Linked DNA regions of Homo sapiens. The protein of the gene in region 4 interacts with the protein of the main gene of each other region in a biochemical or structural test. Each region holds a gene or a part of one and is shown on either strand. Other genes may lie near its edges.

The links.
Region 1: the proteins of PPP2CA (region 4) and MAP4K3 form a complex in vitro, tested with the Homo sapiens proteins (one study listed by BioGRID).
Region 2: of the proteins of PPP2CA (region 4) and CDC42BPB, one has a biochemical effect on the other in vitro, tested with the Homo sapiens proteins (one study listed by BioGRID).
Region 3: of the proteins of PPP2CA (region 4) and BCL2, one has a biochemical effect on the other in vitro, tested with the Homo sapiens proteins (2 studies listed by BioGRID, with this or other methods).

What each region holds. Positions count from the first base shown.
Region 1 is NC_000002.12:39,322,286-39,325,785, forward strand, and holds part of MAP4K3 (mitogen-activated protein kinase kinase kinase kinase 3), read right to left. Parts: coding exon 3,445-3,500; intron 3,344-3,444; coding exon 3,233-3,343; intron 1-3,232. UniProt on the Homo sapiens protein: Serine/threonine kinase that plays a role in the response to environmental stress. Appears to act upstream of the JUN N-terminal pathway.
Region 2 is NC_000014.9:102,967,050-102,970,549, forward strand, and holds part of CDC42BPB (serine/threonine-protein kinase MRCK beta), read right to left. Parts: intron 3,213-3,500; coding exon 3,102-3,212; intron 1,668-3,101; coding exon 1,423-1,667; intron 1,310-1,422; coding exon 1,204-1,309; intron 122-1,203; coding exon 1-121. UniProt on the Homo sapiens protein: Serine/threonine-protein kinase which is an important downstream effector of CDC42 and plays a role in the regulation of cytoskeleton reorganization and cell migration. Regulates actin cytoskeletal reorganization via phosphorylation of PPP1R12C and MYL9/MLC2.
Region 3 is NC_000018.10:63,313,270-63,316,769, reverse strand, and holds part of BCL2 (apoptosis regulator Bcl-2), read left to right. Parts: intron 1-3,500. UniProt on the Homo sapiens protein: Suppresses apoptosis in a variety of cell systems including factor-dependent lymphohematopoietic and neural cells. Regulates cell death by controlling the mitochondrial membrane permeability. Appears to function in a feedback loop system with caspases.
Region 4 is NC_000005.10:134,202,074-134,205,729, forward strand, and holds part of PPP2CA (serine/threonine-protein phosphatase 2A catalytic subunit alpha isoform), read right to left. Parts: intron 1-3,656. UniProt on the Homo sapiens protein: Catalytic subunit of protein phosphatase 2A (PP2A), a serine/threonine phosphatase involved in the regulation of a wide variety of enzymes, signal transduction pathways, and cellular events.

The DNA of each region.
Region 1 (3,500 bases), on a different chromosome or scaffold from region 4:
AATGAACATGGATGAAACTCATGATTATTTCTGAGAACAGTTTTACCTTCCCGGCTTAAACAGCACAATAAATTATTAATTTATTAGCATAACAGATTAATAAAATTGTTAAATCTTATAATGCTGTACATAGTAAGTGGGCTTACATATAGGAGACGAAAACTGAATAAAAATCAGAATTAGAATTACACCAGTGTGTAATTACTTCTAAAATAGAAACTACAGGGGAACTCAACATTAAAAAGTCAAACTTTCTTCCACAGTGCATAACCTATAAAAAACTTAAACTAGACTTAGATGTGGTATATGTGTGTGTGTGTGTGTGTGTGTGTATATATGTATATATAGATAAATACACATATATATATATTTTTCTTTTTCTATTTTTTGTTTTTTTTTTTTGAGATGGAGTCTCGCTCTGTTGCCCAGGCTGGAGTGCAGTCGCATGATCTTGGCTCACTATAACCTCTGCCTCCCAGGTTCAAGCAATTCTCTTGCCACAGCCCCCTGAATAGCTGGGATTACACGCATGAGCCACCATGCCCGGCTAATTTTTGTATTTTTAGTAGAGACGGGGTTTCACCATGTTAGCCAAGCTGGTCCCAAACTCCTGACCTCAGGTGATCCACCTGCCTCGGTCTTCCAGAGTGCTGGGATTACAGGCATAAGCCACTGAGCCCACCCTTATTTTTAAGAGTATGCATACAATAGTTCTAGTATCACAGTAAGTGCTGAAATTCTTAGATACATTCGTATTTTGAGTGACAACACTGCACTTAGCAATTACAATTACAAATCATTTGCAAATAAAAAAGTTATGAATTTCTCTTAAGAAAAACATTATTCTAAGCTACTGTGAGAGGGAATGTAACAGCTTCCCCTCATCCTACCCCTGGAATAATTAAATTCCTTTATTTTACCTACTTACCATAGAGATTTGTAACAATTTATAATTATAATACCAAAACAATGTCTGGATAAGAAAGATGAGTTTCTTTCCCTGCTATATGAGAAAGTTTTAGAAGAATCTTCATTCCACAGATTGCTTCTCTATTTGGTTTATTATTTCTGTTCTTTGAGTACATTTTTAAAAAGACATGACAAGTACATAGGGTGAGGTAAGAAACAATCATGTAGCATTTAGTGCACTGAAAAGGATATAGGCAGTCCTTGTTTTACAGCTTTGTTATGCACCAATTTCAGTTACCATAATTTAGTTAAATAACACTAGTTCCCTACATCATGGTTCAAATAACAGTTACCACTGTATATTAATTGAAATTGCATAAAGTATAAACTTTATTGGTAGCCTTTCAGTTCACAAATTACTACGTAAATAACAGATGCACATCATGATCATGATTAGAAAGAAAATTAGAAAGCAATATGACAATTTGCCAAGGCATAGAAAAGATACTTGCTCTGTGTCACAGACACATGATGAAAAGGCAAACTACTCAATAAGCAGACTACTAGATAAGTAAAAAAAGTGCATGAAAAGTTCATTAACAAAGAAATGAAACACATTAACTCTCGATGATTCTAATATTTATAATACACTGTAAATAATAGTTTTACTATTTTTTCACATTTCTACAATTACAACTGACAGTAACAGAGTTTATGCTTTAACAAAAAATTTTAAAAGTCATGAAACAATTATAATTTTTCCTGATTATTAAGATTACTTTGCAGAATTTTAGCTTATGCAGTCATTTTTACAGTCCCATACTACCATGCACATCAAGGACTGCCTGTATACTAAATAAGACTAGAAGAGTTTGTAAAACTTAACTTTCTTAAAAATAAAATTAAGCAAATCAACACCAAAAAACTTCTTCAGGCCAGGTGCGGTGGCTCATGCCTGTAATCCCAGCATTTGGGAGGCCGAGGCAGGCAGATCACAAGGTCAGGAGTTCGAGACCAACCTGGCCAATGTGGTAAAACCCCATCTCTACTAAAAATACAAAAATTAGCTGGGCATGGTGGTGGGCTCCTGTAATCCCAGCTACTCAGGAGGCTGAGGCAGGAGAATCGTTTGAACCCAGGAGGCAGAGGCTGCAGTGAGCTGAGAGCATGCCATTGCACTCCAGCCTGGGTAATAGAGTAAGACTCATCTCAAAAAAAAACAAAAACAAAACAAAAAAAACTTCTTCAGAGTATAATTATAAGATTAATTATACTTTACATTCCTTACATTTTTAAGCTCCAAACTCTTTTCCAGACCCTTAAACAAAAGGACAAATAGCTTATCTATCATAAGATGGCAAGCTGGGACAATGCTGAATTGATAGAAAGGTTCTCTCTGACTTAAGACAATCTGTGGCCGTCTTTCTAAACACTTCACCTTCAGTCATTAATGAAATTTACAATATTTTTAAGGGCCTCCCATAAAGCCAGTAGAGTTAAAGCCTATCCACTTCTGTTACAGACCCAATAACAGAATTCTGCCATGTCACATATACTGAATTTATCTTGGTTGCCACAACTATTAGCAGTGCTAGGAATGTTACATATGCAAACAGAAGTGAAGCTTCCATTAATATCAATGCTTCTGTCATATTAGAATTATTTTATTAACAACTATACTGGCTCATTTTAAAACATTTCCATAGTGAATAGCTGAGTTTTAGTCACTGGCAAAGTCAAGCCTATACTTCCTACTAACCTCTAATAATTTATGAAGTATTATATAAGAATTTTTTTTTAAAGATAGAAACGGGGTCTTGCTATGTTGACCAGGCAGGTTTCAAACTCCTGGCCTCAAGTAATCCTCTTGCTTCAGCCTCCCAAAGTGATGGGATTACAGACATGAGCCACCAGGCCAAACTGAGGATTCTTTTTGAGAAGCAAACTGAGGGGAAATTTTGAATATTCAAATGTCTTGTTTAGGCACTTCCCATTTGCTTTCCCTTTTACAGTGAATGATTATTTGGCAACTTCACCAAAAATGGCTATTTTGAAATAACTACAGTGATTTCAACAAGTGGATTAAATGATATGCCTTTGCCATTTTCACACTATAGTCACCTATAAGTAGTCAGTAAGAAAAACCTAGCATTTGACTTTCCATGAAAGGCAAAGACAAAGAATTAATTGTTCCCTCAAGAGCTTTTTTATTTAAACTAGGCCCCAAAATTAAAAAAATGGATTTTGAGACGTACATACAGACACACATATATACATACACATATACATGTTATATATGCCCGCTGGTAAAAGCAATTCCTACCTCAGGATCATCATCATCGAAATCATGGTAAGTGGAATGATCTGGATTATTTACTTTATCCAACAGCTCGATTGCCAAAGACCGTGTCAAATGTTGTGTTACAAAAGGATGCTATAAAAATTAAATACAATGCAGAACACTTACTATAAATCTGATTGAATAACATTTTATCTTTTGAAATATATATATATATTTCAGGGCAAAAATAATACCTGTAATAATTTTTCAGCAGTAGGTCTTTTTTTCGGATTTTTGGTAAGTGCCATTT
Region 2 (3,500 bases), on a different chromosome or scaffold from region 4:
GAATGATTTCCGCAATCTGAGCTTCCCAGTGGGCCACTGACTCCTTCTTGGCTGCCAGATCCTGCAGCTCATCCTCCAGCTGTCTATTTTGAGCTGTGAGTTTATCCACAAAGGAACAGAGCTGAAATGAAACAATTTCACCACAGAACTTGTTAATCGGGCATCCTTTAAGTATGCTGGATTTAACACTGGAAGTTCTTTTGAAGACTCTGAAAGTTTTCTTTAATCGTCATGAGATTTTTCCAAACTAAGTTCATGATATGGATTTTTTTCACTGTATCTAGCTTAAGTCACATTTCAATTCAAATCTAAACCTAAACTGATGGAGCTGGAGCTAGTGACTTCAGGCAATTGGCATCTTTTCGCTGAATACAAACATCCTATTTAAAAGACCAAACACATGACTCCATTCAAAAATTAAAACAGTCACGTGTAGTGAAACAGCAAGAACACGGTCTGAGAAACGTGTCCTTGCACACACAGCGTGAATGCACTCACGCAAGCCTAGACGGTGCGGCTGCCGCACACCAGGCCCTGTGGTACAGCCTGTCAATTCCAGGCCCCAAGCCTGCATACCATGTTGCTGTGCGGGACGCTGCCGGCGGCTGTAGCACAATGCTAAGTATCTGTGTATCTCAACACAGAAGAGGTAGAGTAAAGTACAGTATTATGATCGTACGGGACGCCTGTTGTACACACAGTCTATCATTGATGGAAGCATCGTTATATGGCACATTACTGCACTGTAAAAAGACACCAAACTTCGGCCGGCGCAGTGGCTCATGCCTGTAATCCCAGCACTTTGGGAGGCTGAGGTGGGTGGATCATGAGGTCAGGAGATTGAGACCATCCTGGCTAACACGGTGAAAACCCGTCTCTACTAAAAATACAAAAACTTAGCCAGGCGTGGTGGCAGACGCCTGTAGTCCCAGCCACTTGGGAGGCTGAGGTGGGAGAATGGCATGAACCTGGGAGGCAGAGGTTGCAGTGAGCCAAGATCGCGTCACTGCACTCCAGCCTGAGCGACAGAGCGAGACTCCATCTCAAAAAAAAAAAACCAAACTTCCAAGACTCAAGAATGACGACATTCTACTCCCCCATAAATATATATACCTACTATGTACCCACACAAATTAAAAATAATTTTTTTTTAAATTACAACTTCCACACAAAGTGCTAACTCAGGTACTTTGAATTAATTACCTTTTCATTTTCAGCAGTTAGCTTCTTGTTTTCATCAAACAGCATCGCTCTTTCTCGTTCGTATTTATCTTTTATTGTACCTACTGCCTCCTCCATCTCGTTATGCCTGCCAAGGTGAGCGAGAAACAGTTTTAAAAGCTCGTAACTTCACTGATATTCGTATCTATGGCGTGGGTATCAGCTTGCATCTTCTGAACTGAGAAGCTCATGAAAACCTACCGTTCTCGCTTTGACTTTTCTAACTTATCTTTTAACATCAAGATTTCTTTCTGCAGGGCCAGCTGGTGGCTTTCTGAATCATGCACCTCCTTCTTCACATTTTTCACTTCTAGCACATGGGAGGCCTCACGTCTGACCAATTCCTCTTCATAAAATAAGACTTTCTTCTCCAGCTCGGATTTGATTTTGGAAATCTCTTGCTGGTGCTCTAAGGTGGCACCCGCTCCCCGGCCTCCTTGCTTCACCTGAAGACAAAGGTTAACATAAATTGACAAACCTCTGTGTCCTCAAGGGTCACACTGTCCTTTCAACCCCTTTCATCCCAAGCAAGTGCAGACACCTTCCCAAGGACTGTGTGTGCCTGGTCTACACCAGATGACGTAGCTGACCTGGCTAACGTGATCCAGGTTCTAGGGGGTCACAGCAGGAGACGGCCTTGCAGGGGGATGTGCCCAGGTCTGCCTGGGACCCCCGAAGCTCTGCCCCACACCCTGTTCATTCATGCTTGCAGCATTCTTCTGAGGGCTGACTCTGTGCTGGGCCCCCTCCTTGTGACTGGGGTGACACTGAGGTCTCTGCTCTCTTGGGGCTGGCGGGAACTGACAGCAAACCAGTAAAGGGGCAGAGGGGCCGTGCACCCCAGCCAGGTTGTAGGGAGTGGAGGGCGTGCCAGGATGGCTGGGGCGGCTTCTGTAAGGTGCTGGCCTATTAAGTGAGGTGTCAGGCTAGGGGCAAAGAACAAGGGCACAGGCTGGAGTGAGGTGGGACGTGTTGGCAGTGTTTGCAGCATGCAGAGAGGCCAGTGTGTCTGGTGTGGCGGGGCAAGGAGGGGCAGGAGAGGCACTGCTGGGCTGGAGCAGGCAGGAGGGTAGCTGCTGGACAGCTGCGGAGCCACGGAGGCCCTGCCGCACAGGAATGTGATCCGGCTTTGGTCTGCCAAGCTCACTCTGCCTGCTGTGCAGAGAGGAGACTCAAGGGCTGAGAAAGGGGCAGGAGCCTCGGGCACCACATGCCGAGGTCCAGCCAAGCCCGCTGCCAGGGAGGAACAGCATCTCAGGCCCACGTCCCAGAGGAAGAGTTGCCAGATCACTGAGGCGAAGGGAGAGGGCAGACCCATCGCACGCGGCTCACACATGAGGAGATCCAGGCCACGCCATACTGCCAAGGAGATCCGCCTCCGGCCCCTTGCCCACTTGGCCACTGTGGCCTTCCCCACTCCCGCCCTCCGCGGCCTCCCTGCTACCCTCCAGCCCCACCAGTGGGCCCCGACTGATGGCCAGCCTGTCTCTTCCCCAGTCAGCAGCAGGCTACGGGCTTTAAGGAGCTTTTCCAAAACTCAACTGCACCGAATTTAGAATACCACGATGTGAAGAAGGCTATGAATTGATGGGGCTGGAGTAGGAAATGAGCCAATTAGATATTCGTTTCCTAGGACTTACTGTGAATTGCCTGAAACTTTTATATAACAAAGGAAAAACATGAACTTGGCCTTTAAAAATGAAAGCAGTCACGAAGGCAGGGGTCACACCCCCCACCTCTCCACATGTGGGTCTTGTCTGAACAGCCTCGGGTGACACTCGGCCCGGACCACACATTACACAAGGTGACTTCCATGTGGTGGCGTCAGCAAAGATAAGCATCCCTCTCAGTTAAGGGCAGAGACCCCCGCCCAGCACTACCTTGAGGGCCTCCAGCTCGCTTTCCATTTGCTTGCAGAAGTTCTCGCTGTGCTCACGAAGCTTGCGCTCCTTGGAGGCCTCAGCAACAGCATCATCAAGCTGAGCTTCCAGCTACAAAAGGAAGATCCAGTTTCTATTAACAAAAAGCGAGCCCTGCTTCACCAGTTACAGCAGCACCCACGGGACCTCCACAAGAACAAGACCTCGAAGGAGCTCTGCGCGTGTTCACCCTTCATCAAATCTTATCACAAATTAAAGTTTGAGAAATACACTTCTGGGTTCAACTGGGATGGTTGGTTACTAATAAAACAAGGTTCAATTCTAGCTTAAATTGACACTTAAATTTCAAGAAAGGATACATTTCTTGAAATTTAAATTTCACTGATTCGTGAAAACCAG
Region 3 (3,500 bases), on a different chromosome or scaffold from region 4:
CCACATGTTTTTATTACATTTTACAAAGTGTGCTCATACTAGGAGGCCAAATAGAGAAAAGGCCAAGAAAAGTAGATGATTGATGTGAACATCTGATCTTATTTGACCAAAGTTGACAAAATATTGATGCCACTGTTTGGTGTTTAAAAGTAAGATTAACTAAAATGCCCCAATTTAAATTTCTAAAATTTAAATCCTCTTCTTGAATTGTTTGTTTGTTGAGATCTCACATTATCAGATCTTTAGTAATTCTGGAAGAATTTGCTAAAGGGTGAAAAGAATATTTTTGTTAAATATTTGGTTAAGTAGGTGGTTTGATTTTTAATCACTATAACTAAAGGGGTTGGGACTTCCAGATTCCCAAAGGATCCTTTTAAACCAAAGTAAAACTGATTTAATAGTTTTACTATTTCACATTTTTGTGAAAAATTCACACTTACAAATTTTCTTTCTACTTGAAATAAATCCAAGGTGGTAACTGGTATCTGTCTATCAAATAAGTTAATAAAAATGTGGGAAACAGAGACACATGTTTATGACAGAAATTAAGATACAACCTTGATATTTGTTGCTGAATTTCAGTGTGTTACCCTCTCATGTAACTGAAGTTTCTTTTTAAGTAAAGGCTCACTTTTTTCTTTTTGTGAAACAGAGTTTTCATAGTAGACCTATCTTTGTGGTCAACAGGTATCTGAGGTTGATAAATGTAGAGGCTACATTTTATGATGCCAAACCACAATGACATACCATAGAACATGATAAAAATTTTTTGACAAAACTGCTTCTAGTAAAAATAAATCATGTAGAAGCACAGATGGTTGATGGTAAAATATGTAATAGCTTTCAGAACAATGCATAGATGGTGACTATATAGGAAAACAAAGGAATTTAGAGAAAAAATATATATATATACCAGGAAATGCACTCATAGGACACTTTGGAATAAAAGTGGTAGTGTTTGAGAATGATGAATGATTTGCCTATCATTTCAAATGTGCATTATTAATCTAAAAGTCATTTTAGGCATTTGGCATACAGACAGATTTTCTTCACATTTACACCAATTGGGGTTACATCTCTAATAATATGTTGTATTTTATAGTGTAAGGTAGTCTTAATGGTAAAGCTTCAGAAGAGAGCTAGCATATTTTCTTGGCATGTGACAATAATCTGCACTGTCCCCAGGGCTCCGTGGATTAGCCCATCTCCTGAATACTACACTGAATACTCCAGGCTTTAGACTGCAAGTCATTTCTTTTTCTTTGCTGCTGCTCGTAGAAAATTGGAACCTTGTGAGGCTGAGGAAATCTGTTTGACTTTTGTGTTCCATAACATGGATAAATCAGGTCCTTGGAATGATCAGCCTCTGATAGATTGTCCCAGAAGACTACAAATTAAATAAAGACTAAAGAAGTAATTGGCTGTAGAGTGGAGTGTGGATTTATTCCTAGGTCTGAATAAGGCATTGTGTGGCATCCAGAGAGAGGCAGGACAGAGGAAGCAGTGAGAGAGAAGCAATTCTAGAAAATGTGGATACCTTGCTGCTCAGTGTGGCTTATAGACAGTAGCACATGCATCCCCCGGAGCTTTGTAGAGATGCTAAAGCTCAGCTCCCACCCCAGAGCTACTGAGTCAGAATATGTGGTTTGTGTGCACGTTAAAGTTAGCGATGCTGGCTACCATCCTTGGTTCCTGGTGGCATCTTTTAGGAAGAGTTGCTACCTGGGATGGATTCTGCATTGTCCCCTTCCAGTGGCCTTAAAGATCTATAGTGTTACTTGGAATACCGAGTATTTCCCAGGTGTCCACTATTGTGATCTGACTTTAGGAAGACATAAATTGGATGAAGGAGAGATAGCAAGCAGGTAGATCAACTATAAGCCCAGTCTTCTCATGAATATTTTTCGTAGTAGTTATATAGTTTATATTGGCATCACTGGTCCCATTAAAAAGTAAGATAGCTTTTCTTCAATTAAAGGCAAGAGAATTAGCTCTTTTAATAGCTCTGTTAGTTATTATTTTATCCCCTCATAACACAGTTTAAATTCTGTAAATGACTTTAGTGACCTTGCAGCTTCTTTAAGACAAAGGGACTCTTGCAGGCAAGGGATTGAGTTTTGGGCAGGTGATGGAGAGTGACCCTCTAAACTGGGAACTGTGACGACATTCAGCTTCATGTCTTAGGAGAGAGTGAGATAGGAGCCACTAGAAGAATGAGATGATTCAGACAAGAGATTGTAGGAGATTGGCTTTATTCTGTTGACAAGATGGTAATCCGACTTATTTTTTGGTTTTTTGGTGTTGGTGGTTTAGGAAGACAGGAACTTCTCCACACCCGGTAGAGTTCAGCTGCCTTTTCATTAGTCAGCAAGCAGTTTTTCCTTTCTCAAGGCAGTCCACATCCAGCAAAACATTTGATTAACTGGAAAGCAATACCATTCTCATGCCAGTGTACAAATTACATGAAAGAGCATCATTTTTCTAGTGTCTGAGGATTGGCTGCTTATGGCCAATTTTGGCAGCAAGACGATAGGATTAAAAATAGCTTGAAGATGATCTAGTCTTAAATAATATATTTCATGATGAACTTTCCTTGGGAAAGTGCATCTTTCTGCCTACAAGAATCACATGACCCCTTTCAATAATTTATGTAGTAGAGAAAAACACACTATTTCTCATAGAGTTTTCAGTCATGTGCTGTGGTGTGATTGTTTCTGGACATTCATAAAATTTTATAGTTAACTGAATTCTCTTTTCTGTTTTGTTGCTATTTAACGTCCATTGAAAACATGGCTTTCTTTTGCGCATTCTGTTACTTTCAGCTGTACTTTCTAATAAGAATGGATTGCCCTTTTTAGCAATCTTTGATTGAACTGGTACATTTCAGATTACTTAAATGTCATCAGGCCACACAGCATACCAGGTAACAGAAAGCCATAAATTAAAAATAAAAAAAAGGCAAGCAAAATTCTTGTTGTTTTTTCTTATCTCTGTTCCCAGTCCTATTGCGCTATTTGGAGGGATGATACGCCCACTCATGAGCGAGTGTGTGGGTGCTGCATGTTAACAGTGGTTCTTCCCACCCAACATACCTCCGCACCCTTTTCTAAGGTCACTCATTGTGTCTTAGCAGTAGTTTAGCAAAGCAGTATCTCAGCAGAAGTGCATTTGTGCTAGAAAACAACACTGTCTTTGTAGTGTACAAGTAGAACGTTTTCTTTTTCCCCCAGAGATATATTGTATTTGAGATTCAAAGGTTCTGTTCAACCTTTTTAAGGTAATCTAATATCACCTTATTCAGGTATAACAGTAACTTGTCAATCTGGTCATCCTTTCTGTCAACCACATGTAGGAGACCACTCAGTGAATTTACTCCACTGTGAATTTTCTCTTTCATCCCTCTTGGTTTGGCTTAATCAACCTTAATGTTTGATGTCTAAGCAGGATTAATGATGAAAATCATCCAAGGACTGACAGTTATTCCACAGATGTGATTGCCA
Region 4 (3,656 bases):
AAAATTCAAGAAACTTTCTATAGAAAAAAATGCAGTTACAATTTTGTTGAAAAAACAGCACACATCCTCATATCATAGTGAACCAAAACCACAGCTCTACAGAATTTTTAAATGCCCATGGGGTGTTTGCCCACCTCATCTCAACTAAAATCAAACTCCCTCTACCACCAACTTTATACCAAACATAAATCAATGGGCTATTAAAACCCCATAAATTACTTTACGGTTCAGTAATTTTTCACAAATTTATAGTTATGCAACAATCACCACAATCCAGTTTTAGAACCTTTCCATTATCCCAAAAAGATCCCTCCTGCAGTCACTCTCCACTCCCACTCCAGCTCCTGGCAACCACTGATTTACTGTCTTGAGTTTGTCTTTTCTAGAAATGTCATATAAATGGAATACAAAATGTAGTCTTTTGGCTAAATATCACTTAGAATATTTTTGAGGCTCACCCATGTTCTGGCATAGATCAGTGGTTTGTTCCTTTTCATAGTTGCACAGTCCTTCACTGTATGGCTATACCATTTTTTGTTTCTCTATTCACAGTTAAGATGAACTGGCAATTATGTTACTGAGGTTTTTGGCTACTATGAATAATGTTGCTATAATCATATACATGGAAGTTTTTCTGTGGACATATGCTTTCATTTCTTTTAGGAAGATTCCTAAGAATATAATTGTTGGATCACCTGGTAACGTTTAACTTTTTGAGAAACAGTCAAACTGTTTTTCAAAGTAGCTAGACCATGTTATATTCCCACCAGCAATGCATGAAGAGTTTAATCTCCGGTATTAACCAACACTTGGTATTATCAACCTTACTGATTACAGCCATTCTAATAGATGTGAAGTAGTAACTCAGTTACTTTAATTTGCATTTCCCTGATTACAATTGATATCAAGCATCTTTTCATGTGCTCACTGACCACTCATGTATCATCTTCTTGGGTAAAATATCTATTCAAATATTTTGCCCATTTTACAATTATCTGTCTTGTTATTGAGCTGTAAAAGTTTTTTTTTTTTAAATATCTGAATACAAGTACTTTTTTTCTGGTGTCATCTTTTGAAAAAACATAATCTTAATTTTGATAAAGTCCGATTTTTCAATTTTTTATGGACTGTGCTTTTGTTATATCTAAGAATCTTTAACTAACCTGACAAAGATTTTCTGATTTATTCTAGAAGTTTTGTAGCTTTAGCTCTTACATTTAGTTCTATGATACATTCTGATCCATTTGCTTCAGCACCATTTACTGAAAGAAACATCCTTTCCCCCGGTATTCTTTTGCTAAGGCTGCCACAACAAAGCATCAGAGAATAGGTGGCTTAAACAACAGAAATTTACTTCCTCACTGTTCCAGAGGCAGAAGTCCAAGATCAAGGTGTCAGCACAGTTGGTTTCTTCTGATGGCCTCTCTCCTTGATTTATGGATGCTCATCTTCTCCATCTGTCTTATCTTCTCCCCATCTGTGTCCTAATCTCTAATAAGGATACCACTTACACTGGATTAGGGTCCAACCATGTGACCCCACTTTACCTTAATTACCTGTCCAAATACAGTCACATTCTGAGGTGCTGTGGGTTAGGACTTAGACAAATGAATTTTGGGGGCTACAATTCAGCCCATTAACCTCCATGAGTAAGTTTTTTTCCCCCCAGATAGGATCTCACTCTGTCGCCCAGGCTCAAATGCAGTGGAGTAGCTCACCGCAGCCTGAAATTCCTAGGCTCAAGCAATCCTCCCACCTCAGCCTCCAGAGTGGCTAGGACTACAGCACATGTCACCATGTCTGGCTAAAATTGTTTTCTGAAGAGATGGGGTCTCACTAGGTTGCCCAGGCTGCTTGCATACTCTTAAAGGTAGCACATTCATTCCTCTGAGCACTGGGATTCATCCTGGGTTTTTAGCACAGGTTAGCTCTTTTCATAGTATTTGGAGTCACCGCAGAAACCTTCCACCATCTAGTCCAACTCCTTCATTTTACAGATGCAGAAAATAACGATCTCCAAAAATATTTCGTAGGACTTTACACAATTCAGATATTAATCAAGAAAATTCAGCTCACGCTAAAACCACATCTCACTGCTTCTCTAATATTAGGAAAGTCTGTGACAGCCATTTATCATTTTGAATATTCTTTAATAATAAAAATCAGTCTGTTGCCTAGGGGGGAAAAAATCTCCCCAAGATTTTTGGGTAAAGGTAAAGTCAAACAATTTATTTAAAGGGAAAGGCGGAAGCCTGCCACCCTAACAGCTCTTTACCATCTTTTGCTTCATGTTCAGATCATCATCAGTACACTTTGCAAAGCTACAATTGGCATGTAATGCATGTAATTTTGGAACTTGCTTTTTTCGGTTATCATTTCTACCATTCTAGATTTTTGTTTTTTAAAGACACAGGGGTCTTGCTCTGTCACACGGCTGGAGTGCAGTGGTGCATCATGGCTCACTGTAGCCTTGACCTCCCAGGTTCAAGTGATCCTCCCACCTCAGCTTCCTGAGTAGCTGAGACTACAAGCATGCACCACTGCACCTGGCTATTTTTTTTAACTTTTTGTAGAGATGGGGTTTATGTTGACTACGCTGTTCTTAAACTCCTGGACTCAAGTGATCCTTCCCGCCTTCCCCAGCCTCCCAAAGTGTTGAGATAACAGGCGTGAACCACTGCACCCAGCCTAGTCTAGATTATTACTGTCATGGTTAATGGCTGGAAACTATTCAACTGAGCTAAACCATATGTACATACATAATGTATGTAATGTACATAATATTCTCTGTTAAATATTTACAGCAAATGTTTTCTTGAATTTCTCAGAAAAATTCTTTTTTTTCTTGAACTTCTTCCTCGATATTTTTTTTTTTTTTTGAGACAGGGTCTCATTGTTCCCCAAGTTAGAGTGTAGGGTGGCAAGATCAAGTCTCATTGCAGCCACGACCTCCTGGGCTCAGGCAACTCTGCCCACCTCAGCCTGAGTAGCTGGGACTACAGGCCTGTGCCACCACACTCGGTTAATTATTATTATTTTTTTGTAGACAAGGTCTCACTATGTTGCCCAGGCTGGTCACAAACTCTTGGACTCAAGCAATATGCTCACTTTGTCCTGTCCTCCCAAAGTGCTGGGATTATAGCCACGAGCCACCGTGACCAGCTGATTTAAAACATTTTGACATTTGGTATGTTTATATATTTATAATACTTCAAAAGTATCTAAAAACACAAATCTAATTATATTACCTCTCCATACCCCAATTTACTGAACTAAAATATCTATTTGACCAGCCCTCTAACATTTTTCTTTTCCTTTTTTTTTTTTTGAGACAGTCTCGCTCTGTTGTCCAGGCTGGCGTGTAGTGGCGCAATCTCAGCTCACTGCAACCTCCGCCTCCCAGGTTCAAGCAATTCTCCTGCCTCAGGCTCCAGAGTAGCTGGGATTACAGGCACCCGCCACCACCCCCGGCTAGTTTTTTGTACTTTTAGTAGAGATGGGGCTTCACCATGTTCTCCAGGCTGGTCTCGAACTCCTGACCTCAGGTGATCTGCCTACCTCAGCGTCCCAAAGTGCTGGGATTACAGGCATAAGCCATCACGCCCAGCCTATTTTTTCAAACAATCTGACTGAGGCATTCATTCTCCTCCTTTTGT